Linked DNA regions of Homo sapiens: region 1 is linked to region 2. A link means that fine-mapping ties the variant in region 2 to the expression of a gene that starts in the linked region. Tissue or cell type: lung. Region 2 holds a variant in brackets; the other region holds the start of a gene. All regions are shown on one strand. Distances are between the middles of the regions.

What was found. PIP is the estimated chance that this variant, and not a neighbour inherited with it, causes the effect.
Region 1: AMOT starts here. The variant in region 2 is fine-mapped to the expression of AMOT in lung (TOPMed, PIP 0.91).

Annotation. Positions count from the first base shown.
Region 1 is chrX:112,835,003-112,845,771 of GRCh38, reverse strand. AMOT (angiomotin) reads left to right here and starts at 4,941. Exons shown (of 14, transcript NM_001113490.2): 1 at 4,941-5,320. LOC107985651 (a long non-coding RNA gene) reads right to left here and starts at 4,046. Exons shown (of 3, transcript XR_001755993.2): 1 at 3,904-4,046; 2 at 1,367-1,513. RefSeq lists a silencer at 4,096-4,435.
Region 2 is chrX:112,773,937-112,784,705 of GRCh38, reverse strand. It overlaps AMOT (angiomotin), which reads left to right. Exons shown (of 14, transcript NM_001113490.2): 11 at 2,044-2,166; 12 at 3,588-3,820; 13 at 5,026-5,709; 14 at 6,042-9,829. The coding sequence ends at 6,139. MIR4329 (microRNA 4329) reads left to right here and starts at 3,918; the gene lies at 3,918-3,988. RefSeq lists an enhancer at 4,813-5,313. The variant C/G (reference allele first, on the strand shown) is at 6,285.

The DNA.
Region 1 (10,769 bases), 61 kb before region 2:
CAAAAATATTGCACACAAAGGGAAGATTTTTTAATTAAGACATTTATTAGTTGGCAACATGAAACACTGGAGATTTTATATTAAAAACATTTGACTTCTGGTTTCTCTTGAAAAATCAGAAGCTGTGGTCACATTGGCCTGCATTTCCCTGTAGTGGTGATCAGGCTGCCCCTTTCACATGGGTTCTGCCTTCTTGCAACCCCTATCACTGGCATTGTCTCCTGACACTAAGCCTAAGGGTTATTAGCTTTTGTGTGTGTGCATGTGTGTTTGTGTGTGTGTGTGTGTGTGTGGTAAGAGATACGTAACAAAATTTACCATTTTAACAATTTTTAAGTGTACAATTCAGTGGCTTTAAGTACATTCAAAATATTATACAACTATCACCATTATCTAGTTCCAAACCTTTTCATCATCCCAAACAGAAATTGTACTATTAAACACTAACTTCCCACTCCCTCTTCCTCCAGCCCCTGATCACCACTACTCTACTTTCTATCTCTATGAATTTATCCATTCTAGATCCCTCATGTAAGTGGAATCATACAATATTTGTCCTTTTGTATCTGGCTTATTTCATTTTGTGTAATGTTTTCAAGGTAGACATTTGATTTTTTTAATGGATTTTATTTTGTACAGCACAGATATTGATTTTTATTGTGCAATAAAGGTGTATTTTAAGAAAAAAAAATAAAGGCCAAATAGGACAGGTAGTTTGGGATGTGGAATCTTGACTTCTGAGCTTAAAATGATCCTCCTTTTTTCCATATCGTTATATGGAGGTTTTTAATGTGTAGTATCTAGGCAACCCAGTGTCTTTACACAGGTGTTTTACAGCTAGTGGTTAATTCTCCTGGTCTCCCCCAGAGGGCTTTCTATACTTTATAGTCAGGATATGAAGACACAGGGATGCTGTGGGGATTAGTTAAATGTGTGTGGCACAGTGTGCTGTATAAACTAACTCTCTGGAACTAGTTTTCACTCTCTGCTCTTAACTTCCACAGCTTTTACTGTCAATACCATTCATTTGGCACTTAGCACATGCTTGTTAGTTGTCTTTTTATGTTTATATCCTTGAAGGCAGGAGCTAAGTCTCATGCCTCTTTGTTTTTTCAGTCTTGTCTATAATAGCGGCTCAATCGATGTTTGTTGATGTTGGCCTCCCCCTCCCCCTCTCTTTTAAGTAGTGCAGGCAATGCACAGCTTTAAATCCAAACTCGGTTTAAACAAACTGAAAGGTTTTCAGGGTGAAAACAAAGAAGTCTTGCATGGCAGGATAGAAGGCTTGGAAGACCTGGGTTAAACAGAAGTACCAAAAAGCTGTTTGCCACAGGTTAAGAAATGACTCACACACAGCCTGACTCACCATTAAGTTCAGAGTTCTGCTAACTCTACTCCATCAAAATTTGGAGAAGAGTAATGCCCAAGCAGGGTTTGAGGAGCGGATGTTAAACGAATTAAGTGTTTTAGAGGTTTCCATTGCTCCAATTCCATTGCTCCACAGTATAAGTCGCTGTGGGGAAAGGAAAGCATGTTAGAAAAGTGTTTTGAAGGCAACTTCAAGGCTAGGGGCAGGCATACTACAAATGAGCCACCAGGCCTTTGTTACCAGGATTTTTTTAAATAGCATCTTCCGTAGTAGCAAAAGATGGGAAATAGCCCAAATTTGCTTCCATTTTTTTTAGAGATAGAGTCTTGCTATGTTGACCAGGCTGACCTTGAACTCCTGGCCTCAAGGGATTCTCCTCCCTCAACCTCCCTAGTAGTTGGAACTATAGGCGTGTGCCACCACCGTGTCTGTCTCCCAAATCCCCATTTAATAAGGGGATGAGTAAAGGAATTTTGGCACAGCTATGCAATAGAATATTGAGTTATAATAAAATAAATAAGGTAAACATAGTTATCCTGAGATGGAAGAATATTTCAAATACATTGTTGAGTAAACAAATGCAAGGTGTGCCTTGATTAATGATCCCACTTGTAAGGAACAAAAAGGGAATATGCACTCATGCTTGAATATGCAAATAATCTATTTGGAAGATGACATACAGTCATAAAGAGAATGGGACTATGGGAGCAGAGTGGTGGAGAAGAACTTTTCACTGTAGTCTTTCAGTACCTTTTTGTTTGGTGTTTTTTGGTTTTTTTTTGACGGAGTCTCGCTCTGTCACCCAGGCTGGAGCGCAGTGGCCGATCTCAGCTCACTGCAACCTCCGCCTCCCAGGTTCAAGTAATTATCCTGTCTCAGCCTCCCGAGTAGCTGGAGCTCAGTGGCTGATCTCAGCTCACTGCAACCTCCGCCTCCCAGGTTCAAGTAATTATCCTGTCTCAGCCTCCCGAGTACCTGCTACTACAGGCGCATGCCACCACGTGCAGCTAATTTTTGTATTTTTAGTAGAGAAGGGGTTTCACCATATTGATCAGGCTGGTCTTGAACACCTGATCTCAAGTGATCCACCCGCCTCAGCCTCCCAAAGTGCTGGGATTACAGGTGTGAGCCACCGTGCCCAGCCCAGTACCGTTTTATCTGAATTCTTCCATGTGCATGTTTAACTTTTTTCACTTGGACAGCATTGATTTTAACAAATATCCTTTTGCCTCTGTGATTGGTAGTAGTCCTGCAGCATATACCCGCCCCCCCACATCTAGCTCTCCTGTCCACTCCAAATAACAAGGCTGAAATAACCTTTCCTTGCTTCACAAACCAGGTGTCTCCATATTTTGAACATTCAAAAACTCACTTTCTCCATGAAAAATCACCCAAATAACCTCACTTCATACATAAACAGAATCATAACGAGAATCATTTTGTGCACACTCCTGCTTCTGAATCTTTCCACAGCTCCTAGCAGAGCATGCTGCACACTCCATGACATGCAATAGTCCACTACTTTTCCTGCAGAGTTGGATTCTGAGCCCCTGTTTACTGTGTGATAGTGTTTCCTTTAAGCACACTTCCTCTTGCATGCCTTGATCCATGGCCCCCCAGATGGCTCCCATTAGGCAGGCTTGAATTGGATGTCACTCTTTCATTGGCATGAGCCATTATAATGGCCTTGCGCTGTCAAGGCGTTTACATTTAGGCTTGCTTCCTACTTGAAATGTTTTCTAGGAAATATGGATCTGTAGAGAATGGTGGTTTCCATGGTAAATGTTCCTTCATATTTGTTTTCTTAAGTTCACTTCGGAGATACACAGCATGATTTCCTCTTTCAGTACCAGAACCACAATAGCTTTAAGTTGTCATGAAATTGTAGAACTTTAAAAAAGAAATCTCACCCACCCTGCTTAGAAAAGGGGTAATTTATTATTCTAACTGCAGGGAGTCAACTTCATATCCACCCCCAAAATTGTAGGAAAAGAGTTGACTTTTTAAAATAAAGCCACAAAACCTACACGACCTTGGATGTAAATGCTTAAAACAGATGAGCAAAATATTGATCCTCTAACACATCTAAGACTCTCCATTATGTTTCACACACAAGTAGGAACACATACATGTGTGGAGTGCTTTATAGTTTTCACACACATTTTATTTTCATACCAGTGCCTTTAAGTTAATAGGGCATGTCTTACAGCATTTACTTACAGGTAGAAAAATTAAGGCTGAGAAGTTAAGCCACTTAACAGAAGTCATACAATTAGCTAGTAAGTGCCAGGGCCCCAAATGAATTCTTCCTTTGGTTCCAAATTCCATGTTATTTTGCTACCCTGACACTGTTTCTTTGTGCCTTCGTTTTTCTAGATGTAAAATGGTAGATTTTCCGTGTCCCAGGATGCTGTTCTCAACCCTCTCGTTTTTAACCAATGTCAGCTTTTTTCACAGTCAGCAGAACACCACAATGACACTTCATGTACTTTCCCCCCTCCTGATTTAATAAACTAAGGGGGAAGAAAAGTTACCTATTCGCAGAAAGCTGGACAGTGCCATAAACATAAAGGCGTACCAGAGTCGGCCGACACACTGTTGCACTCTTTTATGAGACTGAGAAATAAAGCGTCTCATCTTTCTCTTGCCAGCAGTAGCTGGGGTAGAACATAGAACTACACAATAGCCTCTTGTTTAGTTTTATTAATTTTGAGGGCGGGTGGGACAAAGGGATCAGACTGGCGACTCCAGGGCCCAATCGCAAGCGTATACTAGGCCAGGCTGGGCCAACCGGTAGCTGCAAAAGAATGGTGGGCGGGACTTACGCTTCAGGGACGCGCTCCGCCCAGGCCGGCGCTCCCAGCCCGCCCAGGGGCGGAGCCTCCGCGGAGCGCCGCCCGCGACCCCTCCTCCCTCGCCCCTCAGCTTCTGCGGCCCGCCAACGGGAGGGGGGCAAGCGCCCGGGGCGGGGGAGCGGAGGAAGAAAGGAGGGTGTCTCGCAGAGCTGTGACCTGGGTGGGGGCCTGCTGGTAATAGGAAGCAAGAGGGGAAGGAAAACGAAGGAGCGCTTCTCCTTCCTGCATTATTTTAAGCAGGCTTTGGTGGAAGCTGCTTTTCAGCATTTCTATTATTTGTTTTTCTTCCTCCCGCAGTGGGGCGGGGAGCTGCACTGGCTCTCCCACGCGTCTATGCCGCGCTGTTGCCGCAGATTATTATTGTAGTCTTTTGCAAAACCCTTTCCTTCTTCCCAGCCAGTCCCCGCGCAGACTCTCACGGCTACGGCAACCGAGTCGTGCCCCTCTAGTGGGAAGGCGAGAGCGAGGGTCCCTTGCTTTCGCCCGAGCTCCCGGACCCCGCGGTTCAATTGTTTGAAACTTCCACGCCCCCCGGCCCCGCCTCTCTTCCGCGCTCCCCTCACTCCTCACTTCCAGGGTCCAGGCAGGCTCCCGCCCTTCTTTCCCCGCCCTCTACTCCGCCTTCCTCCCTCGTCCACCCCTCCCGCCGCCCTGCTCCGGGGCGGTCCTAGCCGCTCACCGCAAGAAGAAAAGCCACCCGTTCGTCCCCCTCCCCTACCTCCCATCCTTTGCCCAGGAGCTGCCTTGGCAGTCACGCCCCTTCCTTCCGAGGAGCTTTCTGGCTGCCTAAACTGGTAGACCCCCTGAATTACTCCTCCATCTCCGCTCTCTTTCGCCTCCTCTTCTCTTAGTTCTCTCCGCCTCCCCCTCAACTACCACCACCTCCAGTCAGTCTCGCCTCCGGCTATCCGCTGCTCCACCCTCTGGCCCGGTATCCTGCCTGTCCGCTGCCACCAAGGAGAGCCCGGACGGAGCAGCGAGGAGGGGAGCAGCCGGGAGTTGGGGCTTCCCCCCTGCCCATCCCTGGCCGCTGGCCCGGGACCGAAGCCACTTGAGCGAGCAGAGAGTCGTCACCTTGTCTTCTTTGCCTTCAGGGGTAGGAGACGCGTGGTTACTTTTCGCGGGGAACTGGGGCAGGAATCCATGGTGGCATGAACTTGGTCGTGCCCTCGGCGTGAGTGAATCGATCTAGGCGCGTGTGGGAATGCCCGTGTGTTCTACTTTCTTTGCAGCTCGCCATGAGTTTTTTTGGATGTGCAGCAAGTTAAATCGGTTAGAGTGTGCGCTGCTTTCCCGTCCTACTTCGGTGAGGAGATGCTAGTGGGTACCACTACTAGATGGTACTTTTACTTCTTTACCTCCTGGGGTTCTTGTGGGTCTCTAGGTAATTAATCACATTGAGGAGCTAAAGACCCGAGGGAAGCTGAAATCTACATTTAGCCCAGCATGCATGTCAGTGCTTATCTCAGATAACTAGATAGGTTTCTGCTAAGTGCTTAGGCTTGGGGTGGGGACTCACACTCCCTGAGGCGGGAGCAGGAGGGGTAGGACCGTGAATTCTTGAAGTTTTAAAGTCTGTGTAATCTAAAACAAGGCTACTCTTTGAGATGTGTGGTGGTGGTGGTAGTGCTTGTGGTGGTAGTGATAGTGGTGGTGAGGAGGGAGTTGCCCCTATCTGCTTTAGAAGATCCAAAGATGTTAGTAAATAGTTTTGGGGGATCTTGAGGGTGTCTTGAGGGTCCAAGCCTGGGCCACTGCACATTGGTGCTTCAACAGTAAGATGGGCTTCATGGGTTTGTGAAAATGAAGAGAAAGAAAAGGGGGAGGGAAAATAACAGTCTTTAATAGACTGTGAGCAGTTCCTGGTAGATTGCCACTAATAATAATATAATAATTTGCATAAAGGGACTAAGTAGAATTAAATGAGCAAGGAAAGAGAAAGTTGGTGAGAAACAGCATTTTCAATCTCTAGTGTATGTTTTAGAACGAACTTTTCAACAACCTGGGATGTTTAGTGCATGAAGTTCTCCTCCCTCCCCGCCATGAAGAGTGGACGTTGGGAGGCAGTTTAAAACTTTTATGAATATAACCCTCTTCTCCCATTCAGAGAAGAAGATAATTAGTCACCATAATCTTCAATGATGAAGGGCTAAGGATATTTAAGTCTCCTTGAGCTAGGCTTTGTGAAAAGTTCTTTCTCAGGCCAGCCTTTGTGAAGCCTTCTCAGTTAGACCTTTCAGCACCCTCATTTAGTAGCTAAGAATAGTTTGAAATGCCATTTTGGATGTGGTATACATTTTCATCCATCTCCCACCTATCTTCAATTGGACAAGTGCGTCAAGCCTGTAAGTGATGGTGTTCAAAGACTTATTACTGAGATGTCCTTAACCCATTGCTTATTTGGGAACACATTATTAACATACATTTTAAAATAACTTTGGTTGATTTTAATGAGTGAAAGGAAAGTAGGAAGGTAGAGAAGGGCGACAATTTTAAAGGCTATCCTGTTTCAGATCAGCTGGGAGGGAAAAGCTGGCCTGACCAAACTACATTTTATAACTGGCCTGGGACATTTTAACAGCCAGGTGGTTGTAGAGTAGTTGCCTCTATTTACAGATGATAACTAAGGTTCCAACTATTCTGTATGGGTTTATCCGGCGTCATTGACAGACACTTTCTGGCACTACATCATACTTCATTTTAAATTACTTCTTTCCTTGGAAAAGTTCGTGGCTTTGTAAAATTGTAAGTGCTTTTTCTACCTTCACAGTCTAGATGTGAAGTAAACCTCTGACCACAATTGTATGTGGAGTCACTTTTACATGAAATTTGTGGATCTGTTTACCTATTTAAAAGATTTTAGAAAGGGAATTTTAATAATTCATAGTCAATGCAGTTTTGGATTTGGAAATTAAAATTTCATTTCTGGTTTATGAAGTTTGATTTATTAGACTAATTCCCAACAAGGACATTTGTAGAGTTGCTTTTTCTTTCTGAGGTTTTGTAAAGACTGCATCAGACTCTAGAATGCTTTAAGAATAGCCTAATCAGAAGGCAGGGGGATGGATACTATGACCTTGAGGTCCCATTGAGTGCCAGAATTCTAAGTGGGTACATCTGCTTCTGTGCCTCTCCCAAGAGCCCTCTCCCAGGGCCTGCGCCTTCTTTAAAAGGGTGTCTTTGTAATTAAGCGGCCCTTCTTCCCCATCCCCCTTTCTTCCTTTGATCCAGCTTTTTAAGGCCTTTTTTTCCATTTGGAGACAAGAGGGGTTTCTCACACTTTCCTGTTCCCCTCTTAACGCTTCTTTTCCTTTACCCCAGAAAAGTCCCCTGAAGTTCTCAGGATGGTTAGAAGTTGTTTTGTTTTGTTTGGGGCGTGGGGGTGGAGTGGGGGAGTTGTTACCAATGAGGAGGAATAGAGGATATATTCCCTCTTGGGAAATGCTTGTGACCAGGTAGCCTCCTCCATGGAGACTGAGCATTTGGAATGCATGAGAACAGTCTATTCTTGGGGACTGTCTGGTAGAAATTGTCCTTTGCACCCATTAAGCCCAGCTTAAACACTGAAAGGGGTGGGGAGAGGTGTGTGTGGTCGTACTGGAGCCTTTTAGGATGGTAAATGGGTAAATGTTTCCAAATCTCCTATTACATCATCTCTTTCTCCCATGGATTCAGTAGGTTTAGTGATCTGCTTGACAAGTTAATTAGCTGGGGACTAAACCAATTTGTTTAGAATTGTGATCCATTGATTTCCTGTCCCCAGGAATTTTTGTTGGTGTTTTACTATGATGTGTTGTCTTTAGTCTTACTTACTTTTCCCTCCTTGCTGCCTTTTGTGGACTTTGGTCCAAATTCTAGGGTTCCACCCCCAAGTCAAAGGTTAGAATTTTGTCCCAGGAACTAAGGGGGTATTAAACAGGCTGGCCATACTGCATTACTCTCCTCCATGGTGGGCTTCTGACCCCTTTTAACCCAGAGAAAGGAGGGAAGTCGCCCCTTCCACACACAACACACACAATCTGAACAAAAAAAAAGAAAAAGAAAAAGAAAGAAAGAAAATAGGAGGTCATTTGCTTTATAAAAGAATCCACAACAGGTTTTCTTTGTAAGTACTAGCTTTCCTAGTTAGTGCCTTTAAACTATGACTTGATATATAAAAATTCACTCTAACTGGGCCTTCTCGGAAGCATATTTATTGCATAAAGGAATACATAAGAATTTGTAATGATTATCGCTTAAATTAAGTGAGGCCATTATTTGGCCTTTGAAATCTTTTTGTTATATGGAATGGAGTTAGTTAATTGTCTAAATCATTCTGGCTTGTAATAATGCTGGCCACGTTAGCTCTGGCCTACAACTGCTTGCAGAAGAAAGCTAGTATTACTTTTTGAAAATAAATCAGACTTTATAGATTTTGAACAATTCTAAGGATGAGACTATCCACCCCATATAGGTAAAATGTTTTATTTCCAGCTACTGTATTTGACTAACCCAGGGATCCAGAAAGTTATTTCTAGTAAATAATGGCGACTGATGCCACTTTAACCTAAGAATCTGCAATAAGATTTCCTAGTGAGCCTATTGGTGAGAAGGACCTGGGCTCTAGGCCCAACTGTAACTCGGTTTACTACCTCTGTTAAGTTTTTTTTTTTCCACTGTAAATTATGGGTTTGGACAGGGTAATTTTGAGAGCCAGTTCTTATACGTTTATGGTTTTCTTTCTAGGCCTCAATATCTAGTATGAATGTGAATGATTGCTACTAGAATGAAGTGCAACAGTTGTTAGAAATTCAATCATCTAGTCATCATGTTAAAGAAAAAAAGATCCTGTAAGGATATATGAATATAGATGCATTATGTTTTACATTTTAACAACCCAAAATTAAGAAGCTAAGACTCTGTCCAAAACTTCAAGAATTCCATCATCCTAAGAGATCACCTGCTTTCATTTTTTCTAGTTCCTTTCAAGTCCTGGTTCCTGTACTAACATGAGTTTTAGATAATTGGAGCCACAGATATATACAATGTTGCTTTTCAATAAGAGCCCACCCAAGACTTAACTTTGTGAACCCATGTGGAGGAACTAAGTCAGAATCTGACCGAGGACACATGAAGACTCCCATATATTTTGTTTCTCAAATGCCAGGAGAGGCTAATGGATATAATAAGTAATCCCTAAACACTCTCTGTGATTCAGGAGTTGTTCATGTATCTAGCAAGGCTGTTAATTTAATTCCTTTGACCTCCTGTTATCCCTCCCCCATTCTTGTTAACAACAACAACAACAAAACTAGGGTCCACTGTTTACTTTGTGTAAATCATTGGCAATGATTTTTAAGTCACTGTATGGTGAAATCCCATCAAGTGAGTATAAATTTGAGTGGAATATGAAATCTCCAGAATGAGAAAGGAGAAGCAGGAAAGCACAAATATACTTGTTTTGTAGCATGGAAAATAATATGTTTAAATTAGACTAAAAGATAGCAAAGAAACTAAGGATTTTAGACAGTTAAATAAAAGACAAGAAGTGCAGCAGCAGAATGGCCCACACATAATGGGTTCTTCATCTGAGGTCTTCACCATGTAGTCAAATTTCATAGTTCTTTAATTTTCCTTTGATAACAAAGGTGTGGTATACATGTGATCTCTAAGATTTGATGGATTAGCCAGGCATGGTAGCTCACACCTGTAATCCCAGCGATTTGGGAGGCAGAGGCGGGCGGATCACCTAAGGTCAGGAGTTCAAGACCAGCCTGACCAACATGGTGAAACCCCTGTCTCTACTAAAAATACAGAATTACCTGGGTATGGTGGCGCATGCCTGTAATCCCAGCTACTCAGGAAACTGAGGAATAAATTGCTTGAACCTGGGAGGCGGAGGTTGCAGTAAGCCAAGATCACGCCATTGCACTCCAGCCTGGGCAACAAGAGCAAAACTCCGTCTCAAAAAAAAAAAAAAAAGATTTGATGGATTCATTCCTGGAAACCAGTGGCTCATCATAAATTAGATTAAATTTCTCTAACTGGAATAGAAAGTGTGGTATGGGTTTTTAGTATTTAGAAAGTAGCAAATGAGGAACAGGAACTTTTTTTTTTTTGTAATATATGATCCTGGAGAAAATGCAAATGGGTGTATTTGCCAATGTTTCCTAAGGCAATTCTTGAAAATCTACTCTTTTAAGTCTGTGGGCTTGCCTTGACATTTGTAAAGGCACTTTCACTCTTGCCCTAACTCCATGAAATATCATTAGCCTGTGTGACTTGAAGCCAGGATCTGGTTTTCTCTGCCCAGCCCCTCTCTGTCTTACCATGTGACCAAGGGTAAATGAATTAGCTGCTCTAAGCTTCAGTTACCCTTCTGGGAAGCAAGGATATTAATAATCACAGAGGTGTTTCGGCATGCTTCATATTGGGCACATGCTTTGAGGTCATTGGATGAAAGGTGTTTGCATGATGGCAGAGCAGGCTTATTATAGGGTCTTGAGCAGGTGTTCCTTTTTAATGAGCTTTGCTCTCTTATAACATACAGTGCCCTTTGGTGCCCC
Region 2 (10,769 bases):
AGAATCTCTTGTAATCTCTGTATGTTAGTCTCCTTCCATCTTTCCACCTATGTGATTCATTCTCTCTCGCTCTCGCTCTCCTCCACCTCTCTCTTTCCCTCCTTCTCTTTTTCTTTGAGAGACAGGGGTCTTGCTGTGTCACCCAAGATGGAATGCAGTGACACAGTCGTAACTGACTGCAGCCTTGAACTCTTGGCCTTAAGCAATCCCTTTGCCTCAGCCTCCTGAGTTATGTGGTTCTCTCTTAATAATAGCTTTGTTGAGTGTTTTGACCATGCCTGACACTGTTTTTACATGCATAATTTTATCCTCTATGAGATGAAGTTACAAATATTGTTCCCACTTGGCATATGAAGCGGCATGCTTAGAGCAGGTAATTTGACTTTCAGAGGTCATAAAGCTTGTTAGGGGCAGAGTGTACTTGGAGAAGCTGGGACCTGCTGAGTTGTCTGTATTCAGAGCCTGTGCTCTCAAGCACTATGCAAATGCTGCTTCTTCTTGGGTACCCAGTAGGACTACAAGCCAGTGAATTGCACTAGAGAAAGTATAGAATGCTGAGATGGTAAAATATTTTGAGTTTGGCAAATGATGAAAGCCATTGTATTCTTTCCCCTTCTTGTTCTCCAATTATTTCATCATTCCATAAATGGTTTCAACCTTGCATATAAGGTACACGTATATTTTGGGGAACAGTAATTTTATAGAGGCTCACCAAAATCCCCAATCTTAATAGCAACTTTCTGCCTCTTTTTCTTGCCGCTTCATCCCCATCTGCACTAGACATAATCTTGAAGCTAAGAGAACATAGTTAGCTCCCAACAGAAAACATGCCTGGAGTTCTCTTGCAGATCCCCATTCTCTTAGGAAGTATAATGAAGCAGTGCCAGTTCATTGTTTTCTCGGTCTATTGTCTGATTTCCTTGAAGACCAATATAATTGCATCAGTATTCTCCCTAATCCTAATAACCTCCCTCACCCGCCCACCACACACACACACACACACACACACACACATGTTTTTCCTTATTAATTGGTCTTTGAGTTAATGGCCTGAGACACTTTCAAATGGAACATGATGGTCCTTTATGCAGTTAGAACTCTGGCAAGAGAACAGTCACTTTGTTGGGGTAGACCCATTGATTTGGTGCTAGAATGTTTCAGATGTAGATTAGATAGGAATCGAGTGGGACTGACTCAAAGGCACTATTTATTAGCTCACATGCCCTACCTAATCTTAGCTGATGTGTCTGTTGTTTGCTTCTAGTACTCAGGTGTATTTACCAATGTTCATCTGTAGCCATAAGTTACTTAGTATACCCTCTGACTTTCTTGAAAGTCTGACCTTTCCCCCTCTATGACTTCTAGGAGAATAAAATGGAAATATATACATATTCCTTTTTTTTTTTTTTTTGAGACAGAGTCTCCCTCTGTTGCCTAGGCTGGAGTGTAGTGGCTCGATCTCACCTCACAACAACCTTCACCTCCCGGGTTCAAGTGATTCTCCTGCCTCAACCTCCCAGATAGCGGGGATTACAGGCGTGCACCACCATGCCTGGCTAATTTTTGTATTTTTAGTAGAGACAGGGTTTCTCCATGTTGGCCAGGCTGGTCTCAAACTCCTGACCTCAGATGATCCACCTGCCTCAGCCTTCCAAAGCGTTAGGATTACAGGCATGAGCCACCATGCCTGGCCCAATATATACATATTCCTGTTGCTTGGCCATGATCTAAAAACTTGAAGGGGCTATCTGCCAGAAGGTTTTGGGATGATATCTGTTCAGTTCTGAAGGCAAGTCTGTGCATATCTCATCCCTCACTGACTTTTGCAGCCACTTCTATACTAATAACGTTGCCTTCTACCCTGAACGCTGAACTGTCCTATTTTGGAGGCTCTTACGGGTTAGTTCCCCAGAAACCATCTGTTCCAAATGTGCTTGATTTCAGCTTAGGACTTTCCAGAAAAGCCTTCCTTGACTTAGAAGAAAGATAACATTCATTGATCTTGCTATGCTCCCATCTCATCACTTCCATTTTCCTCCCCAGGGACACAACAGTCATCAGTCACTCTCCTAACACCAGCTATGACACAGCTCTAGAAGCTCGCATCCAGAAAGAGGAGGAAGAAATCTTGATGGCCAATAAGCGTTGCCTTGACATGGAGGGCAGGTAAAATGTTGTTCTGGACCCTGAGGAATCTGAGACATTGATATAGAGACCACATAGGATCTTTATTCACAGCTAGGAAATCTGATCATGCAGCCTCCCCGCTCCACCATCACCCCTGCCAGCCTGTCACTTAAAGGTGTGAGATGCAATGACCTTTACCTTGATAATCTCCACTAAACATGGAATTCCAGGTAGGGTTTCTGTCCCTTTGGCCTTCCTAATTGCTTTTCCTCTTCCCTCTGCCTGAGCTGAATTGTTGGCATTTGCACTCTGGAGTATTCTTTCTAGCACTGCACCACAACCCTGTGATACAGCAGATTGCTTAATAAAAGAGTAAAAGAACATCTGCTCGGCCGGGCACAATGGCTCACACCTGTAATCCCAGCACTTTGGAAGGCCAAGGCGGGCGGATCACCTGAGGTCAGGAGTTCAAGACCAGCCTGGCCAATATGGTGAAACCCTGTCTCTACTAAAAATACAAAAATTAGCCAGGTGTGGTGGCGGGCACCTGTAGTCCCAGCTACTCAGGAGGCCGAGGCAGGAGAATTGCTTGAGCTTGGGAGGCAGAGGTTGCAATGAGTCAAGATCATGCCATTGCACTCCAGCCTGAGCGACAGAGCTAGAGTCCGTCTCAACAACAACAACAAAAAGAACATCTACTCAAAGTGGAGGTAGGATACCTGATTCCTTTTATAAACACATGATCATTTACTTACTACCTGCAGGTTGTCGCTCATTCATAGATCTCATCTTCTCACTGAGTAAATTGTTTCCATTGACTGAGATTCTTCACTACAGCACCTAGTACATCAGTTCATTCTCTCATATTCAGCCTTTTTTTTCACTGGTACTTTATTGTGACTTACTAAGATTTAAGCAACAGCTCCTGGATGCTCTGCTGTATCCATTTGGGTGTGCAGAAAAAAGAAAAAACATGTTTTAAAAACTGTAGCACACCATCCCTTGTTTTCCAACTCAGAACTAACTAGATCAGCCTTTAGTCGAAAAGATAATGGGAGCTCCACGTAGTCATGTAGTCAATTAGACCAAAATGTGGAGGTAGCAAGAAGGTTTTTTTTTTTTTTTTTTTTTTTTTGAGATGGAGTCAGTCTTGCTCTGTCACCCAGGCTGGAGTGCAGTGGCACTATCTTGGCTCACTGCAACCTCCGCCTCCCAAGTTAAAGTGATTCTCCTGCCTCGGCCTCCCGAGTAGCTGGGACTATAGGCGCCTGCCACCACACCCAGCTAATTTTTGTGTTTTTAGTAGAGACAGGGTTTCACCATGTTGGCCAGGCTGGTCTCGAACTCCTGACTTTGCAATCCGCCCACCTCGGCCTCCCAAAATGCTGGGATTACAGGCGTAAGCCACCGCGCCCAGCCCACAACAAGGTCTTTATATGTTCTTTGCCTTTGGCTCCTAGGATTAAGACCCTCCATGCCCAGATTATTGAGAAGGATGCCATGATCAAAGTACTCCAGCAGCGTTCCCGGAAGGAGCCGAGCAAGACAGAGCAGCTGTCGTGCATGCGGCCAGCGAAGTCTCTGATGTCCATTTCCAATGCTGGATCAGGCTTGCTCTCCCACTCATCCACCCTGACTGGCTCCCCCATCATGGAAGAAAAGCGAGACGACAAGAGCTGGAAGGGGAGCCTAGGTAATGACAGTAAATAAGGAAGATTATAGTCACGTGTTCAAAGAGAGCCCTGAGATAAGCACCCATGCTTAAGGAAAAGGGATGATGGTCCAGGTTCTAGAGAGGAAGGTGTACCAGGGTTTTGGAGTTTTTTTTTCCTCCTGAGACCCTAGTTCCACATTCTGGAGCTCCTCCACACTTTGAAGTCTCCCGGTGAGAATACCGATTGAGGCCAAGGCTTAGAGGACAAGAATCTTGAGTTTCATTTGGGTGTCAAGGAAGATAACTCTAATTTCCTCTAAACTATTCTCAGATTTGGCCTTTGCCATGTGGCACCTTTATCTTTCTCCAAAGCCCATGTGGCCTTTGTGTCGTTCCAAATGTCAAAATTCCGGCATTTCTGTGTTCCTTCCTCCTCTATAATAGGAGAACCCAGAGTTTTAGTTACACTAAATCGTTTGGGTAGCAGGTTTTGTTCCCACAGTGTTGTGAGATGAGAACAGAATGTACTTTTTCATTCCGTTCCTGTCCATTCCCTCCCCTCTAATCAAAACCCCAGACATATTGTGGATACCACGAGGCACATTTTTAGAGCCCGAGGAAGGAAGCTTATATATATTTTTATTTTAACCCTTTTTGTTGCTGTTAATTCCTTTCTTGGTCCTCTGATACTTGTAATATCTTTTGGTTAGAATAAGCATTTTGGGGACTATGGTCATGGTGAGAACCTCAGATCACACAATTATTACCACACTCAATCTGTGTCAACAGACTTCTTCCCCAGATCCTTTCTTGCTCCCTGGTAACGTGTGGTAATGGTTTATAAGTGGAGCCGAGTAGGAGCATTCTGACAACTTGGTGGAACCCAATCACCATTGGAAAAATAAATCAAAACAGATACCCAGGTCACTTACAGGCTTAATATGTTGTGCCAGGTGATGGATGAGGACCAGAAGGGATCCTCGAAGTCTGTAGGAAACTTTTAGCCATGGTTGGAGGAGCCTCACACACTGATTTCTGGGTTCCCTGGAGGCAAAAATAAATAACTTAGACTATTCTAAATTATTTAATATTTAAAAATAATAATATTTTAAATATTTAAATAATATTTACTTATTTAAAAATAAATAAATTTCTTCTGAAATTTGAATGGGAGAACAGGTAATTAGATGTCTGGATTTGAATCACCTATTGTTTTCTAACATCTGTTCCTCTTTCATTTGTAGGCATTCTCCTGGGTGGAGACTACCGTGCTGAATATGTCCCTTCCACACCCTCGCCTGTGCCACCCTCGACTCCCCTGCTCTCGGCTCACTCCAAGACAGGCAGCCGAGACTGCAGTACCCAAACTGAACGTGGGACGGAATCGAACAAAACTGCAGCTGTTGCTCCCATCTCTGTTCCTGCTCCAGTTGCTGCTGCCGCCACTGCTGCCGCCATCACTGCCACTGCTGCCACCATCACCACCACCATGGTAGCTGCTGCTCCAGTTGCTGTTGCTGCTGCTGCTGCTCCAGCTGCTGCTGCTGCCCCGTCTCCAGCCACTGCCGCTGCTACTGCTGCTGCTGTTTCTCCAGCTGCTGCTGGTCAGATTCCAGCTGCTGCCTCTGTTGCCTCAGCTGCTGCCGTTGCTCCTTCTGCTGCTGCTGCTGCTGCTGTTCAGGTTGCTCCAGCTGCTCCGGCTCCAGTTCCAGCTCCGGCTCTGGTTCCGGTTCCAGCTCCAGCAGCGGCTCAGGCTTCTGCTCCTGCTCAGACTCAGGCACCAACTTCAGCTCCGGCTGTGGCTCCAACTCCAGCTCCAACTCCAACTCCAGCTGTGGCTCAGGCTGAGGTTCCTGCAAGTCCAGCTACCGGTCCTGGACCACATCGTTTGTCTATACCAAGTTTGACCTGCAATCCAGACAAAACAGGTAATTATTCCCTTTAGCAGGTAGGTTTTGGTTTAGTTCTGCTCTCAAATACAGATTTATTTCTTGTTGTCTGATGTCTGGGCAGAGTTATCATTTGGACTGAGTTTTTCACGTTCTAAAGGAGAGAGAAGAGAGTCTGTAAATGACTTCTCATCCACCAAGATGGGAACAGGCATGAGTAGAGGCCATTATCTTAGCAGAAGTAAATGAGGGAGGTGGCAGGCAAGTCTCACTTTGCCATTGGCTTCATGAGGGCTCTGATGGTGTCTGGTTCTAGAAATATGGGTTTTTTCTTCATCCCTAAGTGTTTTCTAACCCTTATTTCCATTTAGATGGGCCTGTGTTCCACTCCAATACTCTGGAAAGAAAAACTCCCATTCAGATCCTGGGACAAGAGCCTGATGCAGAGATGGTGGAATATCTCATCTAAACGGCCAAATCAAGAGCTGCAGATTATCAGCAAAAATGCTTTTAATCATTTTCCCCCTTTTATTGGTTCTTGTTTTGAGGGTGAGGACAAGGGTTGTGGGGAGGGGATGTTTTTTAACAGGACTTTTTATTGGAACAATGTACTA[C/G]TTGAGTAATACCATGTGAACACCAGTCTATTTTGGTATGCTTAGGGAGTACCTCTAAAGACAGATTAATCAGAATGTGCTCTAAAGCTTATTGTTTGAATTTATACGAATACTGGGACTGTTAACAGGTGGCTATACATCGACGTTTTCAATGTGCTTAAATTTGTTTAAATTTTCCATATTCTAGATCATTTTTTATTGAAGAGCACAGTATGTGTGGAAGACAGTGTATAACACGTAGTTTGGAAGTGGGAAGCTAGAGAGAATTGAGTGTGTGCTGTTTTGTATAGTTACTATCCTGTGCAGCAGCTGGAGAAAGCACTCACCTCAGGCTTACAAAAGGGAATAGTTTCAGGAGCTATGTAAGCTGGAAAAAAGGTAGGGAGTTTTGGGGTGCAGAAGGGTACTGGAGCTAATTTTTTCTTCCAGTTTCCCAGCTACCCTGCCCCAGGGAATTGTGTTTGTCTTCATTTCAGTGGTGCTTTGGAAATGGATTCTTTTGGTTCCCTCCTGGAGGTTCATACATTCATATATATGCTCTGGAGTAATTTATGCATTTGGATAATTAATATATTGCTTTCAGATGCTGGGAGAGTACATTAACTGAGTGATGCGCAACTTCCTCTCTCTTAGGGAATTAGACCATCAGAGGCCTTGATGGAGAGTTGCATGGGGTGCTATATGCAGACTTCCATGGTTTGTGTGTAGCCATGAACACAGCTTGCTTGCATTTAGTAAGACCAATCAGCTTAGTGTTTATTTCTTCTACAGCACAGATTCACTGGCTGGGTCTCCAGTCTCAAATTGCCAATCATTTGCAAAGTGAGGAAGGATCTTTGTTGACAGGTTGAATGCTTTGAATTTCTGGTGACTACTTTGAAATAACTTGTTTTGTTTGTCAAATTCTAAGCATATGTCTTAAAAGGCATTTTTGACTATCACCTCCAAGGGAATAGCTTGAGAAACCCAAAGTACTATGCTGCAGTCGGGGGAGAGGTGGATTGCAGCAGTATCCTCAACTACCTCTTCTCACTGTCAGTGACACCATCTTGGAATACCTTTGGGAAGCAGCAGGAAATGTGCATGTGGGTAGAGATCAAAGGAGGCAATGGCTCCAAGCCTTGCCATAGGGCTGCCTCCAAGGACACAGAAGGATGCCAGTTGCCACAGGTCCCTGCCCTGTGTCACCTGTCTGCCCTTCATTAAGGTGAGAAATCTGCAGATAGCATCATTAAGATCAGTTTTAAGGGGTATAGGGAGGGTGAGGGAAGTGGGGGGTGTTAGGTAAGGGTTGGGGGTAGAGGTTTTGGGATGTCTTAGTTAGAAACCAGATTAATAGAAGAGTAGGCCTGATATATTACATCATGAGCCATAGTGGTGGGAAAGAACTTTAGCAATATAGCCCTACCTCCTCATTTTAGTGATGAGGAATCTGAGAACTGGAGAGGTTCAGTGACTTTTTGAAAGTCATACAACACAGCTAACCATTATGCCAATCACCATGCTTATTTTGGGAAACTCTTTATCTTTTTTAAATTCCATTTTATGAAAAGGCATCTTCATGGTCCAGGGAATATGTATCTTGTAAAATGTACCTGGTTGGAGTAGCTTGTCCAGTCTTGACAAACTACTGAATTTCTGTCTTGCCTCTCCTTCAGTGCCTTTTAAAAGGTTTTCCCTTTTCTGATCTGCATTTCAACATAGAGTCACATAAATGTCCCCCTGAGAAACCAATCCCACTTCTTTCTAGGAGATTGGGTATCTTAGATAATCTTTTGGGGTTCCTCTGTGAGTATAGGAATGGTATCCTTCCTAATTATCTTCCAAAGGAATTATTTTGTGTGTGTGCCTGTGTGTGTGTAGAGACATAAAGGAGGGTGATGTGATTTTCAGCTAGTCCTTTCACATTTTCAATAATGAGGTAATCATGTTACATACACATTAGTCCTCAGTTATAAAGTGAATCTCAGATAGAAATTAAAAGTGCAGTTGTGTTAAGACTCTTTCATACTACCCTTTAGTCATAAGGAGAAAAAAACACTCAAATAGTAGAAGCAGCAAGTAGCAAACTTCAGGAGAGCTACTTTCTATCCAAATAATTTAAAAAACACTTTTCACCTACTCCTTTCATGGTTATAACACATTGGCAGACTTTTTGCTGGCTCTGGGAGCCATGATTTTAATCACATTCTGCAAGGTGACAAATGTCATACATTCCACATTGTGTGGTAGCCATCTCTTTAGACTCATGTGTTTTGGGGAAAGGAAGAAGTTCTTGGCTGAGTACTATTTTGAACTTTCCAGAACCCTCTCACACCAGAGACAGTTCTTCTCTGTTCAGTTTCCAATCCCCGATAATTTGCTAAAATAACATTGTACATCCAAGAGAGGGAAGAAGAGTATGTCAGTATATTATGCAGAAGATAGATACAGCCTTTTCAGAAGATCTCCACTAGTTTTTGTTCCAAAAATTCAAGTTTATGGGAGAAATCTCAATTAGCCACCTTTTCACAGTTGTGTGGATATAACATTTGGGGGATCTTTCTGGACTCCTACCTATCTGTGCATTTTACCGGCACCTCAGGAAAGGAGGGTGACCAGGTTGTCTTAGCTTGTACTGCTTGGTGATCTCTGAGGACCTTCTAATTCAGTTGTACCCCAGTGTTCCATGTATAGAAAAACTTCATTAGAACAAACTTTACTTGATATGAAACTCCTATTAACAGTCTTTTTTTGAAATAAAAAGTAGCTTGAGCTTTCTTTTAAAATCATGTATCTTGATTGTTGATTTAATGAAGGATTTCCTTTTAATGCTGCTTTTGAGCTTCAAGGTAATAGGACAGCAGGAACCTAAAATATCTGCCATCATCTGCCATAGGAAAGATACCCAGAGACCCATCATGTTCTCTTTTTGTTGTTACACTGTTGGGTGGGTATAACAATTGGAAAATGAACAAACTGATTGATTGTGCAAACTACTTTTTATGACAAGCCTAAACCCTCATAATGCGGCAGCTTAAAGTGTATACATATGCACTAACTTTGATCAATTATATTCTCATATCTGTTAGCTACACAGTCTCCTATTATCTCAATTGCTTATGTGCATATGGAATATGTTACTTAAAACGTGTGCATTCTTACTGAAAATGTTTTCAAAGGAAGGTATCAGCTGTGGGCTAATTGCCACCAATTTCAGCCTGCCACGATTCTTGGAAATATGTCTTCCAAGTGCCATCCATCATCAGTAGGACAAGTGTCGGGAGTTTGTTTATTTTTTTCCAGTAGCAACGATGGGTTACATGGAGCCATGAAACCTCCTTCTGGCCTCCCTTGTGATTAATGGCATGTGTTTGTAAAATGGATAGCTGGGGTTGGCAGATGGCTAGAGAAGAATCGCCTTTGGTTTAAAATGTATGTGGTCCCCTAATGATTGTGACCCCATTCTGTAATCAACTGAGCTAGTTCCAATAAAGTTAAGCAGGTTTAAATCCACTTTGTGCCTATCTTTTCACTGACAATAAAGTTAGCTATTTTAAAATGCAGTACCGTGTGGAAAATGCTTTGGTGTTTACCCGACAGAGGCTTTATTTGTGCTGTATCAGTGATTACTTTCAATTCAGTATGCAGTGAAATTGCCTTTCAAGGGCAGCGTGCAGCAGAATTTGCATTTGCTTGAAGTATGGAATGTGATTATAGATTATAAAGTATTAAGACAACACCACAGGCCGCATGCTCTAATCGGTCTCTTTATATACTCAGGCAGCATATATTAAAAGCTTTGCATCTTTTTATCTTCTGGTTTCTAGGGATAAAATGATGGCCACCCAAAGCAGAGAATTTATCCTTTGGTTAGCATTTTGGAAGGCCCCTTGATATTCCTTTTGTACCCTTGTTCTGATGCCAATTCATCAGTTTTGGTTGAGGGAGCTTGTTATTAAAAACAAATCAAAACCACAAACGAGTTGGCTCTTCACTGAAAATGTTAAGGCTGCCTTTACACTGCCCTTTCTGTGCCTCCTGTTTACCAATGAGTTCCAAACCTGACTGGTGAGGCAAGGATCCCCAAGGACTTTGAAATGACACGTTTTCACAGTGAAATAGACTTGATGGGTGTTGCGAAAGGGATAGGGCAGGGGTCTAGAATTCATTCAACTGTAAATTTGATTTTTCTTAAAGTTGGACTTGATTCCCTCCATATTTATGATAAGTGCTTTGAAAACCGTATGGATGAAAGGCCTCCCTCTTTTTCAGGACAAAGAAGATAAGGTATTAAGTTAACCAGACCTTCTTACAAAGCTTTGCAAAGCATTCTTTTCAGAAATGTATTGCGCCCATTTCTTAAGGAGCAGTCACTTGTTGAAAGAAAAAGCAAATGTTCCTTCAAAAATGTGTTAGATTGGCCGGGCATGGTGGCTCACGCCTGTAATCCCAGCACTTTGGGAGGCTGAGGAGGGTGGATCACGAGTTCAGGAGTTCAAGACC